Linked DNA regions of Homo sapiens: region 1 is linked to region 2. Evidence: fine-mapped expression QTL. A gene starts in region 2. The other region holds a variant in brackets. All regions are shown on one strand. Distances are from middle to middle. Region 1 has its middle 43 kb from the start of PARTICL. Region 2 holds the start of MAT2A (methionine adenosyltransferase 2A).

Evidence for each region. PIP is the estimated chance that this variant, and not a neighbour inherited with it, causes the effect.
Region 1: its variant is fine-mapped to the expression of MAT2A in neutrophils (BLUEPRINT, PIP 0.91).

What each region holds. Positions count from the first base shown.
Region 1 is chr2:85,490,545-85,500,231 of GRCh38, forward strand. It overlaps the pseudogene RPSAP22. Among named protein-coding and RNA genes, the nearest start is that of PARTICL, 43 kb to the right of the region's middle. The variant A/ATG (reference allele first, on the strand shown) is at 5,005.
Region 2 is chr2:85,533,888-85,543,574 of GRCh38, forward strand. It overlaps MAT2A (methionine adenosyltransferase 2A), which reads left to right and starts at 5,281. Exons shown (of 9, transcript NM_005911.6): 1 at 5,281-5,491; 2 at 7,196-7,273; 3 at 7,368-7,490; 4 at 7,746-7,858; 5 at 7,942-8,085; 6 at 8,268-8,486; 7 at 8,678-8,860; 8 at 9,014-9,147. The coding sequence starts at 5,401. PARTICL (promoter of MAT2A antisense radiation-induced circulating long non-coding RNA) reads right to left here and starts at 4,999. Exons shown (of 1, transcript NR_038942.1): 1 at 3,580-4,999. RefSeq lists enhancers at 4,199-4,288, 4,689-4,898, 4,969-5,058 and silencers at 5,089-5,358, 5,539-5,868.

The sequences.
Region 1 (9,687 bases), 43 kb before region 2:
TTTTTGTAAAGATGGGGTCTCACAATGTTTCCCAGGCTGATCTCAAATTCCTGGGCTCAAGTGATCCTCCTACCTCAGCCTCCCAAAGTGCTGGGGTTACAGGCATGAGCCACTGTGCCCAGCCTTAAAGGTTGTTTTTAAATGAAGAAAAAAGATATCAATAACATTAAATGAATGTAGAAAGTTGGGAAGAGAAAGAGAATAGAAAAAAATGTGTAAGAGATTATAAAATGTTTATGAAAATCTTGTGGGTCAAAAGCTGACTGAAACTGGATGGATTTATTTATAAGCTTTTAATTATTTATTTATTTTTAGAAAACTGATGTTTATTTTCCATGAACCTTATTTCCACATTGCTTAAGAGACTGTGGAAGAATAGCTTAAGCCCACTCAGTGGTTGTTCCTACCCATTTAGTGGCCTGTGCAGTGGGAGCTGCCTACCAGTCTTTTGTGGAAGGCTGAGCACTCCAGTCTTCAGTAGGAACCTGCTAAACAGGCACAGAGGGCACCTGCATGCCTTCAGACCAGTGTGCAACTTCAGGCTGAGCAGCGGTGAATACAGGAGGTGGAGCAGTCTATTTACTCTGAAGTTCCTTCTTGATCACAGCTTTTTCAGCAGCTCTTCCTTCTCAATCTTCCTTCTCAATCTCTTCAGGATCTCTATAGAATTAGAGATCAGGTATAACCTCCCTTGGGTGTCCAATGGAGATGGTGCCACGCATGCTCAGAACTTCCCAGGCCAGCCTCCACCACATCAGACCCACTGAATGAGCTCTCTTCTTGTTGCATGTAATGGCAATGTCCATACAGTGCAGAGGAGAATCTGTGTTACACAGAGCTATGGTAGGCAGGTTAACATAAAAGGCCTATGTAGGAGGCCAGTGGTCAGCCCTGGGACCAGTAACCACCAGAAGACATGGCCCCCAGGAGGCTGTCTGGATCTGGTTAGTGTAAGTTCCAGGAATGAAACAGCCAGCAATAGGAGTGGCTCCAATGGCAGCAGCAAACTTCAGCACAGCCAACCAGCTAGTATTCCTGGAGGATGATGCTGACATCAGCAGGGTTTTCAATAGCACAAGCTGCCAATAGAAGCTTCTCCAGATTTATGATGTCGATGCCATTACTTTTCCTTTTATAGATGTGCTGTTCCATTTGGAAGTCAAGGTTGGTGCTACCTAAGTGGCTTCCTGCTGCAAGGAACTTGAGGACACCCTCCTCCTTAATTTCCAGAACATCAGTGCTCCAAATATCGTAAAAGTTTCCCTTTAAGTTATGACAGGGCTGGACACAGTGTTTCATGCCTGTGATCCCGGCACTTTGAGAGGCTGAGGTGTGAGGATTGCTCAAACCCAGGAGTTTGAGACCAGCCCTGGCAACACAGTGAGACCCTATCTCTATTTTAAATAAATAAATAAAAAGTTGGCCAGGCGCGGTGGCTCACGCCTATAATCTCAGCACTTTGGGAGGCCAAGGCGGGCAGATCACCTGAGGTTGGGAGTTCAAGACCAGCTTGACCAACATGGAGAAACCCCATCTCTACTAAAAATACAAAAATTAGCCAGGTGTGGTGGCGCATTCCTGTAATCCCAGCTACTCAGGAGGCTGAGGCAGGAGAATCGCTTGAACCCGAGAGGCGGAGGTTGCGGTGAGCCGAGATCGTGCCATTGCACTCCAGCTTGGGCAACAAGAGTGAAACTCGGTCTCAAAAAAAAAAAAGTTATGATGGGAATCCAGAACAATGGATCTATGGACCCTTCTCTAAGAAGTGAGGAAAGGTAAGGTTTCATTAAAGTTAGCTTTAGTATTGATAATACACTATATGGAACTAAAATTTGATTTTCTCTTTTGAGTAAGAATTTTGTATAGTTTGTTTTTTTTTTTTTTACAGAGTCTTGCTCTGTTGCCAAGGCTGGAGTGCCATGGCATGATCTCAGCTCACTGCAACCTGCACCCCCTGGGTTCAAGCGATTCTCCTGCCTCAGTCTCCCAAGTAGCTGGGATTACAGGCATGCACCACCATGCTCAGCTAATTTTTGGTAGAGATGGGGTTTCACCACATTGGCCAGGCTGGTCTTGAACTCCTGACCTCAAGTGATCTGCCTGCCTCGGCCTCCCAAAGTGCTGGGATTACAGGTGTGAGCCACCAAACCCAGCCTGTGTAGGATTAATAAGAGATAGTAAAATATTTTTGTTTATCTTTGAGTAAACTGCAAAAAAAAAAAAAAAAAAAGGAAGAGAAGAGACAGATTCTATCTCAGGCTGTCTTTATTAGGTCTTTTGATTGTTAGAAAAACAGACTTTTCTATCAAAGAATAAAGGTTTTTGCTTTTTAAAACCTTTTAATTATCACTTTGGCTAAATAAATATTATTTTACAGTGATCTGTGATCCTATTTTTGTTGCTTGTTTGTTTGTTTTTGAGATGGAGTCTCACTCTGTCGCCCAGACTGGAGTGCAGTGGCAAGAACTCAGCTTACTGCAAACTGCCTCCCAGGCTCAGCTATTCTCCCACCTCAGCCTCCCAAGTATCTGGGATTACAGGCACTCACCACCACACCTAGCTAATTTTTGTATTTTTAGTAGAGATGAGTTTTCACCATGTTGGCCAGGCTGGTCTCGAACTCCCCCTCAGCCTCCCAAAGTGCTTGGATTACAGGCGTAATCCACCATGCCCAGCCTCCTATTTTGGTTGTTTTAAATTTTTGACAGGCTTCTCAAAATCAAATTTTAAATTCAAAATTAAGTCTTTTAGGCCACAAACTAACTTTGCAATGCTACAGGAGGCCCCTGCAGCATCCAAAAGAGAGACAATAAGCAGGCTTATTTAATATTTTAAGTGACATGGGAAGCATTGTCAAATAAGAAATGATGTTTAACTTTCTTTTTTTGTTGTTTTGCTTTTCTGCTTTTTTGAGATTGAGTTTTGCTCTTGTTGCCCAGGCTGGAGTGCAATGACACAATCTCGGCTCCCTGCAACCTCCACCTCCCAAGTTCAAGCAATTCTCCTGCCTCAGCCTCCTGAGTGGCTGGGATTACAGGCATGCACCACCACACCTGGCTAATTTTGTATTTTTAGTAGAGATGGGGTTTCTCCATGTTGGTCAGGCTGGTCTCGAACTCCCGACCTCAGGTGATCCGCCTTCCTCAGCCTCCCAAAGTGCTGGGATTACAGGTGTGAGCCACCGTGCCTGGCCTGATGTTTAACTTTCAAATTACATTTTGGATATGTTATTAATGTATGTTCCAAAATTGGCTGGGCACAGTGGCTCATGCCTGTAATCCCAGCACTTTGGGAGGCGAAGGCAAGAGGATCCTTGAGCCCAGGAGATTGAAATCAGACTGGGCAACATAGGAATCTCTTCTCTACAAAAATAAAAAATTTAGCCAAGTATGTTGGCATGCCCTGTGGTCCCAGCTACTCTGAAGGCTAAGGCAGGGGGATTGCCTGAGCCCAGGAGGTCAAGGCTGAGCCATGATCATGCCACTGCACTCCAGTGTGGGCGACAGAGCAAGATCCTGTCTCAAACAAACAAAAAAAAAACAAAAAAAACAAGGCATGGTGTGGTGGCTCATGCCTGTAATCCCAGCACTTTGGGAGGCTGAGGTGGGTGGATTGCCAGAGGTCAGGAGTTTGAGACCAGACTTGCCAACATGGTGAAAACCCATCTCTACTAAAAATACAAAAAAAAGTAGCTGAGCATGGTGGCGGGCACCTGTAATCCCAGCTACTAGGGAGGCTGAGGCAGGAGAATAGCTTGAACCTGGGAGATGGAGGTTTCAGTGAGCCAAGATCGCACCATTGCACTCCAGCCTGGGCAACAAGAGCAAAACTTAGTCTCAAAAACAAACAAACAAACAAACAAAAACAAAATAAGACTGTATGAGATTCCTAAAATTCTGATATGTCTTGGTATAAGTCACAGTTATGGCTATTATGTTAAATTATTACAGTCCACAGAAATAACCAAATTTCCTTGTCAATTGGGTCTTTAACTATGACGATTTTAAATTGTTTCCACAGTTAATTACTTAATTCTGATGCATTTTCTGAAAGCTCTTTACGAGCAAGTAAAATCATAGAGTGTTGTGTCTTCAAGGAGGTTCATGGAAAGAATATAAAGGACCCTGACAAGCACATCTTTTTTTTTTTAAAGACAGAGTCTCATTCTGTCACCCAGGCTGGAGTGCAATAGCATGATCTCGGCTCATTGAAACCTCTGCTTCCTAAGTAGCTGGGACGACAGGCATGTGCCACCATGCCCAGCTAATTTTTGTATTTTTTTGTAGAGACAGGATTTTACCATGTTGCCCATGCTGGTCTTGAACTCCTGGACTCAAGTGATCTGCCCGCCTCAGATTCCCAAAGTGATGGGATTACAGGTGTGAGCCACCATGACCGGCCATTGCCAGATTTTCATGCTAAATCAGCCAGTACTGAAATTGTTAGGATATGCAGTTTGAATGAACTCCATGGTCCAAGTCAGATTACCTGTGATAACCCAGTTTTTACCTATTTATTTATTTTGAGACAAGGTCTGGCTCTATCACCCAGGCTGGAGTGCAGTGGTGCAATCTCGTTTCACTGTAACCTCCTTCGCCACCCCTTCCCCATCCCCCACCTAAGCCCCGCAAGTAGCTGAGACTACAGACATGCACCACCACACCTGGCTGGTTTTTGTATTTTTTGTAGAGATGGGGTTTCACCATGTTGCCCAGGCTGGTCTTGATCTGTGAACTCAAAGATCCATCTGTCTTGGCCTCCCAAAGTGCTGGGATTACAGGTGTGAGCCACTGCACCAGGCCAACCCAGTTATTAAACAGTACTATTCACCTGAATTGGAAAAACAAAATTGGTATTGAAGAAGATATACATCCAATGTTAAGCATAAACTCATGGAGAGCCTGGACAGCTGCCTCATCCTTCCTGAATCCTTAAAGCTTCCACTCTTAGAAGCTCTGTACTCCATGACACATTATGGTAGAGATTAAATGATCCAAATAGAAA[A/ATG]TGTGTGTGTGTGTGTGTGTGTGTGTGTGGTGTGACCGTTTTAAATTGCTAAAATGGTTTTTGACCAATGCTTAGTTTGTCAAATCCATAATCCTGGGGAAACAATAAAAACTTCAGGTACACTTCTGCTACCTGATTGGCCATTTGAACATTTATAGAGGGAGTTCATTCAATTGTCATTCGGAATGCATATTTTCTGGTTGTATAGAAGCTTTCCCACGAAAGAAGTCTGATGATATAACAGTAGCTAAAAGTTTATTAGGAAGTGTGTTTTTTTCAGGGGGCATTCCTGGAGAAATCTCCAGTGATAAATGTATTTGTTTCATTGAACAAATTGTAAAACAGTTAAATAAGAAACTACAGACAAAATAGTACTAGGCAAAGCTAAGTAAATCAACTGGATTGTCTTGGTCAAAGGTATTGCAGATTGATGACAATTAGATCCACTTTCAGCAGAAAACATCAGTTGACCCTTTATAAAACAGTCACTGGAAGGCCTATGCCCCTAATAATAGAAACTCATGACTAGGCGCTGTGGCTCACGCCTGTAACCCCAGCACTTTGGGAGGCCGAGGCGGGTGGATCACCTGAGGTCAGGAGTTCCAAGCCAGTCTGGCTAACATGGTGAAACCCCGTCTCTACAAAAATACAAAAATTAGCCAGGCATGGTGGTGCATGTCTGTAATCCCAGCTGCTCGAGAGGCTGAGGCAGGAGAATCCCGTGAACCCGGGATGTGGAGGTTGCAGTGAGCTAAGACTGAGCCACTGCACTCCAGCCTGGGTGACAGAGCGAGACTCTGTCACACACACAATAAAACCACACACACACACAAACAAAACAAAACAAAACAAAAACTCATGTATCTTCTGCTCCTAAACTTTGATATGGCTAACTGTGGCTTTAATGCATTATGCCAAAGTGCATTTTCACCAGGTAAGGAAGGTTTTCATGATCCACTGACTGAGGACAATTAAATCCTTCATGATCAAGAACATAGAGATTGGGTCTTCTAGAAACAACACACCTTGCCACCCACACTGCAGCAAAACTTTAGGACTTTGAACCTTGGGTCTGTAATCTCACAACTCAGAAGGGCCCCTCCAGACTCTTAGAACTGTATATCTGTTGGAGACCTCAAGATAAAGCTAACCAGGGAAGTTTCTCACCAGAAGCAGATGGAATCCTAGATGTGGAAAGCTTTCTCAAGATGACAGATCAAGACTTCTTTGCCATCATGAGACTCTTACCTCTCTTAATTTTTTCCTCGCTTATGCCTTTATGAAGACTAGAACTAGAAAAAGTCTTGTGTGGACCCATGGGGTATACTTTTATTTGTGGAGGATTTCACCGCTAACCTTATGCATGAGCAACCTTATGCCTTGATGGATAGAAGATGAAGGGCCAAAGTGGGTGAGGAATTTTCACGGTACCTTTGTAGCTCCATAATCAGTCAGAAACAGAACATTGGTCTATTTCTTTTAACCTACATTATAGGTTGAAGCAAACGTTGCCAGGAGGCCTTCACCCTTCTGAATGGGCATAATTCGTTAGGTTGCTTTTTCCATGATTTGGGGTAAATGAGGCAATGATTAGAAATTTGTCCCTCATAGTAGACTCTATAGCAGATTCAACTATAAACACTATGCTAAAGACTTCTTTAAACTTTTTGCTAAAGTTGTGCTACATAATAGAACTGCTCTAGGCTACTTACTGGCTGAACAGAGAAGAATCTGTGCAGTTGCTGACTACATATATATATATATATATACATACACACACACACACACACACACAGAGAGAGAGAGAGAGAGAGAGAGAGAGAGAGAGAGAGAGAGAGAGAGGAGAGAGAGAGAGACAGGATCTCACTACGTTGCCCGAGCTGGTTTCGAACTCCTGGGCTCAAACAATCCTCTTGCCTGGGCCTCCCAAAGTGCTGGGTTATAGGTGTAAGCCACCATGCCCAGCCAATTGCTGACACTTCTTGTTGCACATGGATGAATATGTCAGGTACTATAGAGATTCATTTGCAGGGGATTAAAAAACTGGCTGCTTGGTCGAAACTCGTAGACCATTTATCAAGCTTATTCTTTAATCTATTTAATTTTAGTTGGTTCAGTTCATGGGGACCCTGGCTAAGCAGCATACTCCAAACTCTTGGTATTGTCCTTCTGGTAGTCATAATAGTCATCTCCCTGGTGAAATATATCCTCTCAAAAATTGTAAATGTTTAATGCAGCCATGCATAGAATGTCAAATGGTCTCTCTTCAACTGGGATGACAAAATCTCAAAGAAATACATAATCATGAGGACACTATAACCTATGAAAGACATGTTGAGACCAGAAACCCAAAATGATCATAACTGAGAGTAGCAATTAGCGATGTTTTGGTCACACTCTCACTTAAGTGACAACATGATCAAAAGGGGAGAATTGTTCAACAAAATTATGGGAGGCCATTGTTTTGGACTGAACTCATGCACTAGGCCCCAACAGACTAGATTGGATCTAACCAAATGGAGTCAACTCATGCTAAATGCAGCACAATCAAACTAAAACTTTAAGGAAGCATATGGATCCCCAAAGAGACCAGATTTTTTTTCTCCAGAAAAGAGGGGATTATAGTATAATAAGGAAGTCGTCTCTGCTCTACCCTTTACAAAAAGGGAATCTAAATTCCTCGTTTCCACCTTATAAAACACAGTGTTCCACTATTTCTCAGTGGGATTTGAAACCAAGTAAGTCTATTTGCTATGGTGACAAAGTGACAGCAATACATAAAGTTTGGTCAACCTCTTCATTTTAAGAGGTTGACTAAAAGGAAGAAATTGTTCAATTAAGTTTAGCCTAAAGCTGCCTGCTTACATATTTTAAGTTTAGTCTGTAAACATATTAAACTGTAACCTAACTGGATGTGTAAACAGACAGTACCAATCACTGAGTTTTAGCAAATCACAGGTGGTCAACTGTTCAAACTATGTTCAAATAAAATAAACACCGATCTGTAACCAATATGGCTATTTCTATACATCACTTCCATTTTCTTTTTTAATTTTATTTATTTACTTATTTATCTATTTCGAGACGAAATCTTACTCTGTTGTCCAGGCTGGAGAGCAGTGGTGCAATCTTGGCTCACTGCAACCTCCACCTCCCAGGTTCAAGAGATTCTCTTGCCTTGGCCTCCTGAGTAGCTGGGATTACAGATGTGCGCCACCACACCCGGCTAATTTTTGTATTTTTAGTAGAGAAGGGGTTTCACCATCTGGCCAGCCTGGTCTCAAACTCCCGACCTCAAGTGATCCACCCACCTTGGCCTCCCAAACTGCTGGGATTACAGGCATAAGCCACCACGCCCAGCCTGACTTCCATTTTCTGTATGTCATTTTCCTTTTTTTGTTTTTGTTTTGTTTTGTTTTGTTTGAGACCAAGTCCTGCTCTATCATCCCCCAGACTGGAGTGCAGTGGGATGATCGTGGCTCACTGCAACCACCACCTCCTGGCCTCGAGTCATCCTCCCACCTCACCCTCCTGATTAGCCAGAACTATAGGTGCACACCACCACGCCTGGCTAATTTTTGTATTTTTTTGTAGAGACAGGGTTTCAACATACTGCCCAAGCTGGTCTTGAACTCCTGGGCTCAAATGATCCGCTCTCCTTGGCCTGCCAAAGTGCAGGGATTAGAGGCGTGAGTCACCACGCCCAGCCCATTTTCCTTTTCCTGTCCATAAATTCCTCTCTGACCACATGGCAGCATCAGAGTCCCTCTGGTTCAGGGAGTTACCGGATTCATGAATCATTCTTTGCTCAATTAAACTCTGTTAACTTTAATATGTCTAAAATTTTTCTGGCTGGGCATGGTGGCTCATGCCTGTAATCCCAGGCGGGTGGATCACCTGAGGTCAGAAGTTCAAGACCAGCCTGGCCAACATGGTGAAACCCTGTCTCTACTAAAAATACAAAAATCAGCTGGATATGGTGGTGGTGCCTGTAATTCCAGCTACTTAGGAGGCTGAGGCAAGAGAAACACTTGAACCCGGGAGGCGGGGGTTGCAGTGAGCCGAGATCGCGCCACTCCACTCCAGCCTGGGCGACAGAGGGAGACTCTGTCTCAAAAAAATAAATAAAATTTTCTTTTAACATGTGTAAGAGGCTGGGCGCCGTGGCTCATGCCTATAATCCCAGCACTTTGGGAGGCCAAGGCGAGTGGATCACCTGAGGTCAGGAGTTTGAGACCAGCCTGACCAGCATGGAGAAACCCCATCTCTATTAAAAATACAAAAATTAGCCAGGCGTGGTGGCAGGCGCCTGTAATCCCAGCTACTTGGGAGGCTGAGGCAGGAGAATCACTTGAACCCAAGAGGAGGAGGTTGCAGTGAGCCGAGATCGTGCCATTGCACTCCAGCCTGGGCAACAAAGCAAGACTCTATCTGAAAAAATAAAACAAAAACAAAACGTGTAAGAGGAAAGGTCTCATACTTACTAATATAAACGAATTGAGAACCAAATGCTCCATTCGCCTGTCCTGCTGCTCTGGAGATATCACCTCTCCCCTACTGCTTTTGAGGCCCAGGTTTTCAGTTATTCCCAGTCTTCTTTGTCCTGTCGTCCTTGCCTTCCCTCAAGCACTCATGACCAAAGAATAAGTAGGCCAAATAGATAACGTTCTTTAAAAAGAGTAC
Region 2 (9,687 bases):
TGTAATCCCAGCACTTTGGGAGGCGGAGGTGGGCAGATTACCTGAGGTCAGGAATTCAAGACCAGCCTGGCCAACATGGCAAAACCCGGTCTCTACTAAAAATACAAAAATTAGCAGGGCATGGTGGCAGGCGCCTATAATCCCAGCTACTCGTAGGCTGAGGCAGCAGAATCACTTGAACTCAGGGGTGGAGGCTGCAGTGAGCTGAGATCTCGCCACTTCACTCCAGCCTGGGTGGAAGAGCAAAACTCTGTCTCAAAAAAAAAAAATTTTTTTTTTCCGCTAGAGTGGCTCATAGAACTTAGGGAAGCACTTGCTCATTTTTACTGGTTATTTTAAAGGATACAAACAAACAGCCAGATGAAGAGATACATAGGGTGAGGTCTGGGAGGGTCCCAAGTGTAGGAGCTTCTGTTACCATGGAGTTGGGGTGTGCCACCCTCCTGGCACGTGGATGAGTTCTTATTCACTTTCCTGTCAGCCTCCACCTGTTCAGCTCTCCAGAAACTCTCTGAACCCAGTCCTCTCAGCATTCTTTGTCCCAGGGTATGGGGTAGGACCCTCTCTGGAATGAGGGTCTTATGACCCATGATCAGAAGGGCAGGGCAAGATTAGAGTCCTGCCTTGGGGCAGGTGAAAGAGAAGCAGGAAAAAGTCAGAGAGATTCTGTTTCCTGAGGCCTGCTCCTGAGTCCTAACACTCTCAACATTATAACGAAACACTGTATAACAAGGGCTATGGGAGTTATGAGCCAGGAACCATGGATAAAAACATATATAAATTCACACATATATTAACATCACATCTATCAACGAGGTTGAGCATTTTTTTCATATGTTTATTGCAATTTGCATTTTCTCCTTGGTGAGCTACCTATTTTATGTTGTATATATTTTCCCACAGTAAAAGAGAAGGAAATGATTTACAGCTCTACATAGTATCCTGGAGAGACAGTCATGAAAATTGTTAAGAAAAAAAAAATCCATGTTTCTCTGAATAGTAAGATGTGTGCGTGTGTGTGTTCACAGAAAAAGGAAAGGGAGGATATAAACCAAATTGTTAATATTAACGACCTCAGGGAGTATGCAGTATTTATTGTTTGGCTATAAGAAGGGGCATGAATTTAGAGGTCAGACCAGGCTCAAGGCCCTAGCTCCACTACTGATTTGATGTGTGACATGGACGAATAACATGCCAGTTTCTTCATCTGTAAAACAGGAAGAGAAATAGAGCTGTTGTGAGTAGTAGATATTACAACAGTGCCTGTCACAATAAAGTGTAGCTATTGTCATCATATTATTATCTCCTTCAGTGTCTTCTTCACTGTACCATATCTATTCTTCCATTCAGGACTTCTTTATTGGGACTGTAAAAAGATTTAAGTATCAAAAGAGAAAAACATAGAAATAAAAACAAAATACAAAAAGCCTAATAATGAGGGGGTTCACATAGTACTTGTTTCTGATCCCACTAGAACTAGCTTGCCTCTGAGGCCATCCGAGATATCTAAGCTTTGGCCCTAAAGAACTGCCACAAATTTGGAGACGTGGCCTACATTTCTTTCTTCTTGGTCTGTCTTCACATAGAAGGTGCTCTTAAGACACACAGCCTAGGAACCTCCTTCTCAACACCTCCACACCTTCACTTGCTCTTTGCTATCCCTACTGTCACCCTCCTCTTTTCTCCTGCCACATCAACAGCTTCTTGCACTGCAAATGTTTTCTGGAACTCTCCCCATGACTGACAGGCTAATAAGGAGTTATTTTATTTGCTGTTTGAGTCACAAATACCATTTTTATCCAATCCCAACTTTGCCTTTTTTGTAGGGTTACTGCTACATTAATGTTCTCTGGCTTGAGAAATCTGAAGCCTTTAGGCAGTGATTAGATTTTTCCTACGTGCTTTACAACACTTCACATTCAACAAATTCATTAACGATAAACAGGAAATAAACCAACAATTTCTCCTGGTTTAGTTCACCCTTAGGACACGCATCTATGAAATCAGAAATCTTATTCCTGTCAGAACAGGATGGCCATGTGCTTCCCTGTTAACAAAGAAGTCTTAATTTTATTAATTACAATGCTTACGACTAAAACAAAGCAGGACCTCTTTCCATTGATTTCACATGATCGCCAGAGTCTCTCATTTCTCTGCTTCCTTCTGCCATCTTTTTTTTTGAGACGGAGTCTTGCTCCGTCGCCCAGGCTGGAGTGCAGTAGTGCGGTCTCAGCTCACTGCAAGCTCCACCTCCCGGGTTCACATCATTCTCCTGCCTCAGCCTCCCAAGCAGCTGGGATTACAGGCGCCCGCCACCACGCCCAGCTAATTTTTTGTATTTTTAGTAGAGATGGGATTTCACCGTGTTAGCCAGGATGGTCTGGATCTCCTGACCTCGTGATCCACCCCGCCTCGGCCTCCCAAAGTGCTGGGATTACAGGCGTGAGCCACCGTGCCCCGCCCCCTTCTGCCATCTTTATATTCGTTCATTTTCCGTTTCCTTCCCTTCCTTTCTTGTCTCTCCCTCTTGAACATTTCTAAGCACCTTGTGTGTGCCAGGCATTCAGTAACAAAGCTTGAGCAAAACAGCCCACCTTCTCATTATCATGGAGCTTACAAGCCTAACTGGGAATTGGAGACATTCATCAAATAATCACCAAATCTATAATTTGAAACTGCACTTAGTGCCATGAAATAAAACACAGGCCCCTGTGACAAATCTGTGTAGATGAAGGCTTCATCCAGGAAGTGGTAGCTGAGCTGGAGTGAGAAGGATAAGGAGTTAGCCAGGCATCTCCCCACATTTAGAGCGCCGAGTGGGCAGAGACCAGGATTGTTATAGCATTTGCTCCTGGGTCTGACTCACAGATGTGCTCATAAATATTTGTGGAAGGGAGGAAGGGACAATACGAATAATATAAAATAAATGAAAATGTGTCCTCCTTTGTTTTGATACTATGAAATTAATAAAATTAACTGCTACTAACTAAAAAATCCAAGTAGAACACAGAAAGGAGAGTGTGGCACAAGGTAAGGTTGCAGAAGTAGCAGCCAAATCACACTGGGGCCTTGAGTATGTAGAGATTTTAGTCCGTATCCCGACAGCAATTGAAAGCCACTGAAAAGTAATTCACAGCAAATATAGTTAATTTTTTTACAGCTTACATTAAAACAAATTATGTACTAGATACTGTGCTAAAGACTCTACTTGCACTATTTGAATCCTTGAAACAATCCTATGATGTACTATTAATATTCCAATTTTACAGAACGAGGATACTGATGCATAGAGAGGTCGTGACTCCAAACCCCTACTCTTACTGTATTACACCTACACACTATTCACAAGTGAGAGAAGTAGGTAAGCAACTATGTACAGCTAAATCTCATCTCCTTGGCAGGCCTAGCCCCACTGTGGAGTTGGTAGCACAGGGGTATCAGGATTTAATGAGCCAATCATTGACTTTACGCTCCTTGTTCTGACTCCCTAATAAAATAACCTTCTAGTTATATTCTGGCTTCCCATATAGATTTTTCTGCTGGGAGATAATGCACTGACCAGCCTACACACGCATTTTGTTCCAGTTGACAATTTTATTACACATTGTAAGTTAATAAATTGGCATTCTCCTTTAAAAAATAACAAAAAAATTTAATAGTCTTATACAGTTACTTTCCCATGAAGGGTTAGCTTGAAAAGTAAAAAGCAACGAATAAAAATATCATCACCTATTGTCTCTTTTGTGGTCGAACCTTTTCTTGCTGCCTGCTTTGAGCGACCGTGGATGTGGTCACTGAGTCTGGGGAGGAGCCCTTTATCTTCTTTGTGGATGCCCCCAGCACAGCCCAAGTGCTTCCTTTGTTTCCCACTGAGCCTTTAGCAAATCCCACCTTTCCTCCTGCACCGACGGAGAGGATTGTTCTTGGGAATGCACCTTGTTCTACTGCCGCCAGCAGTAGGCAGCTGGAGACTGTTACTAGGGGTCTCCTTCACCTCCCCAGCGTAAAGTACATCCCATGCTAGGAGCAGGCCGTTCCCTGAGAACCTCATTAAACCCGGCGTTCTTGTCACGCGCTCCGCTCAGGGCCACCAGGCCACCAGCCCGACCAGACCTGCACCGAGGCCCAGCCCCAGAACAGGCTGCAGAGACCCCCGCCCCCAAGGCGGGCTCCCTCCAAACGGGACTCCATACTCCTTGCTGGCTCAAGTTTTGTTTCGCTCTTTTTCCCTGTAATTCCTTTATTGGGCAAAACTGGGACAAACGCAGGTGGACATTTTAAAGTGAAAGCTTCATGAAACAGCCCATTCCACGCCGTCAAGAGATCTGCTTAAGCACATTCAAGGGAACGAATAGCCCCCACCCACCAAAAAAGAAATGTTCGTTCCATATTCTCCTGAACAGAGGATTGAAACATCGATTCCCCCCCCCTTCAAAGGAACAGGAAGGCCACGGGGCAAGGACGGACTTGGGAGCGGCCTCCTTTCTCTCTGGAGGGAAAGGCTGGAGCGCTGCCTCCACTTTTAAGTCCACGAACCACGAAGGGTGAGGATCCCTCAGAAACTTTAGCGCAGGGGAGCGGGCAGGAGGGCGATTGTTTAAATCGATGGCAGCACCTTCATTAATCTGCTTTCCGGCCATCTTCAGCAGAGCCATTCACCAGGAAACGACTAGAAGGTGGGCCTGCGCCCCTCAGATATCCCGGGGCCGGCAACGAGCCGGGCAGGGACGCCGAAGGAAGGCCGTGAGGAGCCCTCGCTGGCCGGCCAAGATGGCCACCTTCACATGGCCGACCGCCACCGGCTCCCTGCCACCCGGCATCTAGAGGCGGGACGGCCAGAAAGACCCCAGCCGCAGCACAAAACCTCCGCGATTCCCGCCGCCTCCGCTGGGGGACGCGACCTCCGGGAAAGCTATCCCGGCCAACGGTCGGAAGGGAGGTGCCATGTCACCGCACAGGGGAGCGGGTCCAGCAAGCCCCAGTCGCTTTTTCTCCCACATCAAACAAGGAAGAGCAATCCCCCACGTCTCCTCGCGTCTGCATTTTTCTCCTAGCTCTAGCGGCTCAAGATAGCTGAACGGTCTCTGGAGGGCCGGATTGCCACGGCACCTCCCGCGGCCGCGCAGTGTGGTTCAGCCCGGACTCCGCGGGGCGAGCTGCCCTTCCTCCCCCGACCCCCGCGCAAGTGGTGCATTGGCGCGCGGCGCCGAGGGGCGGGGCCCGAGCCGGGCGCGCGCGGGCGCTGCTCTATAAATACCGGGCCGCACCGCCCGCTGCTTCGTTCGCTCCGCGCCGCCCGCCTGCTACGAGTAGAACGCTGTCCGCAGCTTGCGCATTTCGCAGCCGCTGCCGCCTCGCCGCTGCTCCTTCGTAAGGCCACTTCCGCACACCGACACCAACATGAACGGACAGCTCAACGGCTTCCACGAGGCGTTCATCGAGGAGGGCACATTCCTTTTCACCTCAGAGTCGGTCGGGGAAGGCCACCCAGGTGAGGGGACGGCCTGAAGCGAAGCGTGGGGCGGGGCAGAAGGCAGCGCCAAGGTCCGGCTGGCTGCGGCCGGCCGGTGGTGGGGCCCGCGCGGGTCGTCCTCGTCCGCCGGGTGATGGAAGAGCGGCGACCGCGCGCTTTCCTCGTGGCGCCGCCAGGGCCTGGCGCGTGGCCGCCGCTCCTCTTCCCCCTCCCCTCTCCACCCTTCCCTTCCCCCCTCCCTTTTCATTCGGTCGCGCGCCTAGGCATGCGGAAGGTTCCAGAAAACGTGAAGGGCGGGGGCTGTGGTCGCTAGTGAGTTCTGGCCGGGAAGGGAGGGCACTGTTAACCCCTCCCGGCCCTGCCGTCTGACAAACCTGGAGTGGGCGACCCGCCCCGCGTGCTCGCGTCCGGCCCTCGGGAGCGCGCGCCCCGCATTGCAGCGGCGACCACGTGTTTGCCGCATGTGGTATCTGGGCGAGGGGGAGCCGTGAGCCTCCCCGGCTGTCCTGGCCCTCAGTTTGAGGGGTGGGGGGCCTATGCCTTGGGACGTCGTCTGGCTCCACTGCCTCAGTGGTTAGGTCTTGACTACACACTGGAGAATACGCACATGCCCTTCGGCGGATATGGCCTTGCCTCCAAGGTGACGGCCTCTGACTAAATATAGCTCATGTCCAAGAAGGCAGTCCTTATTTGGACCCCTTGTGAAAAGGATGGGAAGCATGAATTAGGAGCTGCCATTGCTTTGGGTTCGCATTTAAAGTCTTCGGTGCAGGGTTTTACTTGAGGCTTTGTCCGCTCAACCGCCATTATGGGGATCAATTGGCACGTGAAGGAGGAGTAAAGCTATATTTCCAGGAACTGAAAATCTCAGCCTGAGCATATCGGCTAGTAAAGATGATTATTTGGCTCTTTTGGCTGTTTCTGCCCTTAGGATGACCGCAGTAGTTATCTATCTGGTGGCTTTAGGGTCTGGTCAGTTTACTGTGCCCATGATGAAATCCCACAAGTAACTTAGTGGTATGAGAGGACAAACCCAGGATCTTGATGAGTGCTGAAGGTTAGCTGTTACACCAGTTAGTAGTAGACCGAAGTTCAGAGCCTGCAGTCTGGCTTCCACATTATGTTTGGATTCTGTTTTAGGCGGTTATAGAAAATTCAGAAAAACGAACTTGAATTAGGGAGATATTTGTTCTCCCTCCTAACAATAGATGACAAAGCAGGGAGACATGGATTCGGAATACGTTTGAGCATCTTCTACACTGTTGAGCTTTTGTTTCCTGCGCAACTCCTAACAGCAAAATCAGATAATTGCCATTTTAGTCAGAAAATGCTTTTCATTTAATTGTTTAATCGAATTATCTTGTTGCTCATTATAATTGGTGTTCCTTAAGATTAGGGAAACTGGCCTACCTGTGGCCTCAGTTCTACCAGACTCCCAGGTGCAGAGGGGTTTGGTACAGTTGTGGAAGTGAATATGATATAGGGCAAATTCTGTTCTTTAAAGGATATAGGACTAACAGTTCACCTTTCTGGTGATTAGATTTATAATGCAAACTTTGAATTTTAGGAGGAAAGTGCAAACACAATGAATTAAGATGTATTAAGCATGTTTTTTAAAATCTCCAAAGATTTTACAGATAGTAACAGGGAGGGAGCTTGCATACATACATACATACTTTGTTTAAAGTTAAAGAAACTGAGCCAGGAATTTCTCTTTTCCAGATAAGATTTGTGACCAAATCAGTGATGCTGTCCTTGATGCCCACCTTCAGCAGGATCCTGATGCCAAAGTAGCTTGTGGTAGGTTCAGAATGTGCTTATCAACTGGTGGAAAGATAGCATAAAAATTATTTTTATAGAAGTGATGTTTGAGTTGAATGTCTCTTTTTATTAGAAACTGTTGCTAAAACTGGAATGATCCTTCTTGCTGGGGAAATTACATCCAGAGCTGCTGTTGACTACCAGAAAGTGGTTCGTGAAGCTGTTAAACACATTGGATATGATGATTCTTCCAAAGGTGTGTTTTAATGATTTTGCTCATTTTTTTCTAGGTAACAGCTGTGAGGTTTGAAGAAACTCCTAGAATGTTCCTGCTAATCCTAAACTCCAGTTGTATCTTACTATACACTAAGCCCTATTCTGTTCATTCTCTAAAAGGTCCGATGGTTTAGGTATATTTGATTTCTTCAGCAGTGTTTAGAATTCCAGATAATTGCTGTAAACAGCAGGTATTTCTAGGACGTAAACAAGATGTTGTGTTTTTTGCTTATAGGTTTTGACTACAAGACTTGTAACGTGCTGGTAGCCTTGGAGCAACAGTCACCAGATATTGCTCAAGGTGTTCATCTTGACAGAAATGAAGAAGACATTGGTGCTGGAGACCAGGTATCTTGGTGTAGAGGCTGTTTTAATCTCTTCTAACATTAAATTCTGGAGCTTGATCACATTGGTGACTTTTCTTTCTTTAGGGCTTAATGTTTGGCTATGCCACTGATGAAACTGAGGAGTGTATGCCTTTAACCATTGTCTTGGCACACAAGCTAAATGCCAAACTGGCAGAACTACGCCGTAATGGCACTTTGCCTTGGTTACGCCCTGATTCTAAAACTCAAGTAAGTGATGATCATAAAGCTTGGTTGTCTCATTTATTACATCAGCACAGAAGATCCATAATTTTGATAATAGCTAACTGGAAAAAATAGCATTTGTTTTCCTATATTGTAACTTCAGGTAGAGAAACAAATACAAAGTTATTGTTTGGTGTGATGTTCTGATGACCTGTGTTGCCTTCAAGGTTACTGTGCAGTATATGCAGGATCGAGGTGCTGTGCTTCCCATCAGAGTCCACACAATTGTTATATCTGTTCAGCATGATGAAGAGGTTTGTCTTGATGAAATGAGGGATGCCCTAAAGGAGAAAGTCATCAAAGCAGTTGTGCCTGCGAAATACCTTGATGAGGATACAATCTACCACCTACAGCCAAGTGGCAGATTTGTTATTGGTGGGCCTCAGGTAATGTCATTTTGTTGCATTTTTCTGGATTTTTGATGGTTACTTAAAATTTTGGCTACTACATTTTTTTCAGGCTTTCTGAAACCTACATGTGAATCATCGGAGGATATTTGCTGAATGAATTCAGAATAGGCAACCTAATCCACTTGGAAAGCACTAGGCGTAAAGTAACTTAAATCCTGTAATTTCAGGGTGATGCTGGTTTGACTGGACGCAAAATCATTGTGGACACTTATGGCGGTTGGGGTGCTCATGGAGGAGGTGCCTTTTCAGGAAAGGATTATACCAAGGTCGACCGTTCAGCTGCTTATGCTGCTCGTTGGGTGGCAAAATCCCTTGTTAAAGGAGGTCTGTGCCGGAGGGTTCTTGTTCAGGTATACACTCTTTATATAACGAACGATTAAAAGTCATGTAAGTGGGAGGGTATTTAGTAGTAATCTACTTAACTACTTGTTTTATACCAACGTATTATACAAGTATATGGGTCTTTGCAATCACTGATTCTTACGACATTTGAATCCTTTTAGGTCTCTTATGCTATTGGAGTTTCTCATCCATTATCTATCTCCATTTTCCATTATGGTACCTCTCAGAAGAGTGAGAGAGAGCTATTAGAGATTGTGAAGAAGAATTTCGATCTCCGCCCTGGGGTCATTGTCAGGTAAAGATGGTAAAGCCTGTTGCTAGTCAAGTATTGAGGGTGTTGGGTGTGTGTGTATATACTTAAGGCTGAGGAGGTGAAGGTGTGAAGGAAGACTCCTCAAATGGGAATATATTTTAATTCCTGGAACAGTTTTGAACTGCTGCCTTAGTGAAGACTTAGTTATTTGAGAAATTTAAAATTACGGTGCTCCATGGCTTAGGCTAACCACTCTAGAGAATGTTCCAGATTTGATATTTGAGCTTTGTGCTCTTCTACTTAAGGGTGTTAAGAAAATAGAGATAAAGTGGGTTGCTCAAGGTTTGTTGCAATGTAAAAACCATGGTAGGGTGTGGGCGGCGGGACCTTGGTAAGTATTGTGTGATCTCAGGTGAGCTTTTTGACAATTGAAATTTCTCAGAATAATGACAAGTTTTCGTATTTGTTGAGCCAGGGACGGAAAAACAACTATAGTTACTAATAAGGACTGTGCAAGGAGTTTGGACACCAGGGAAGTAACACTTTTGCCACAAATTTTTTTCCTAGCATATCCCAGAGAAC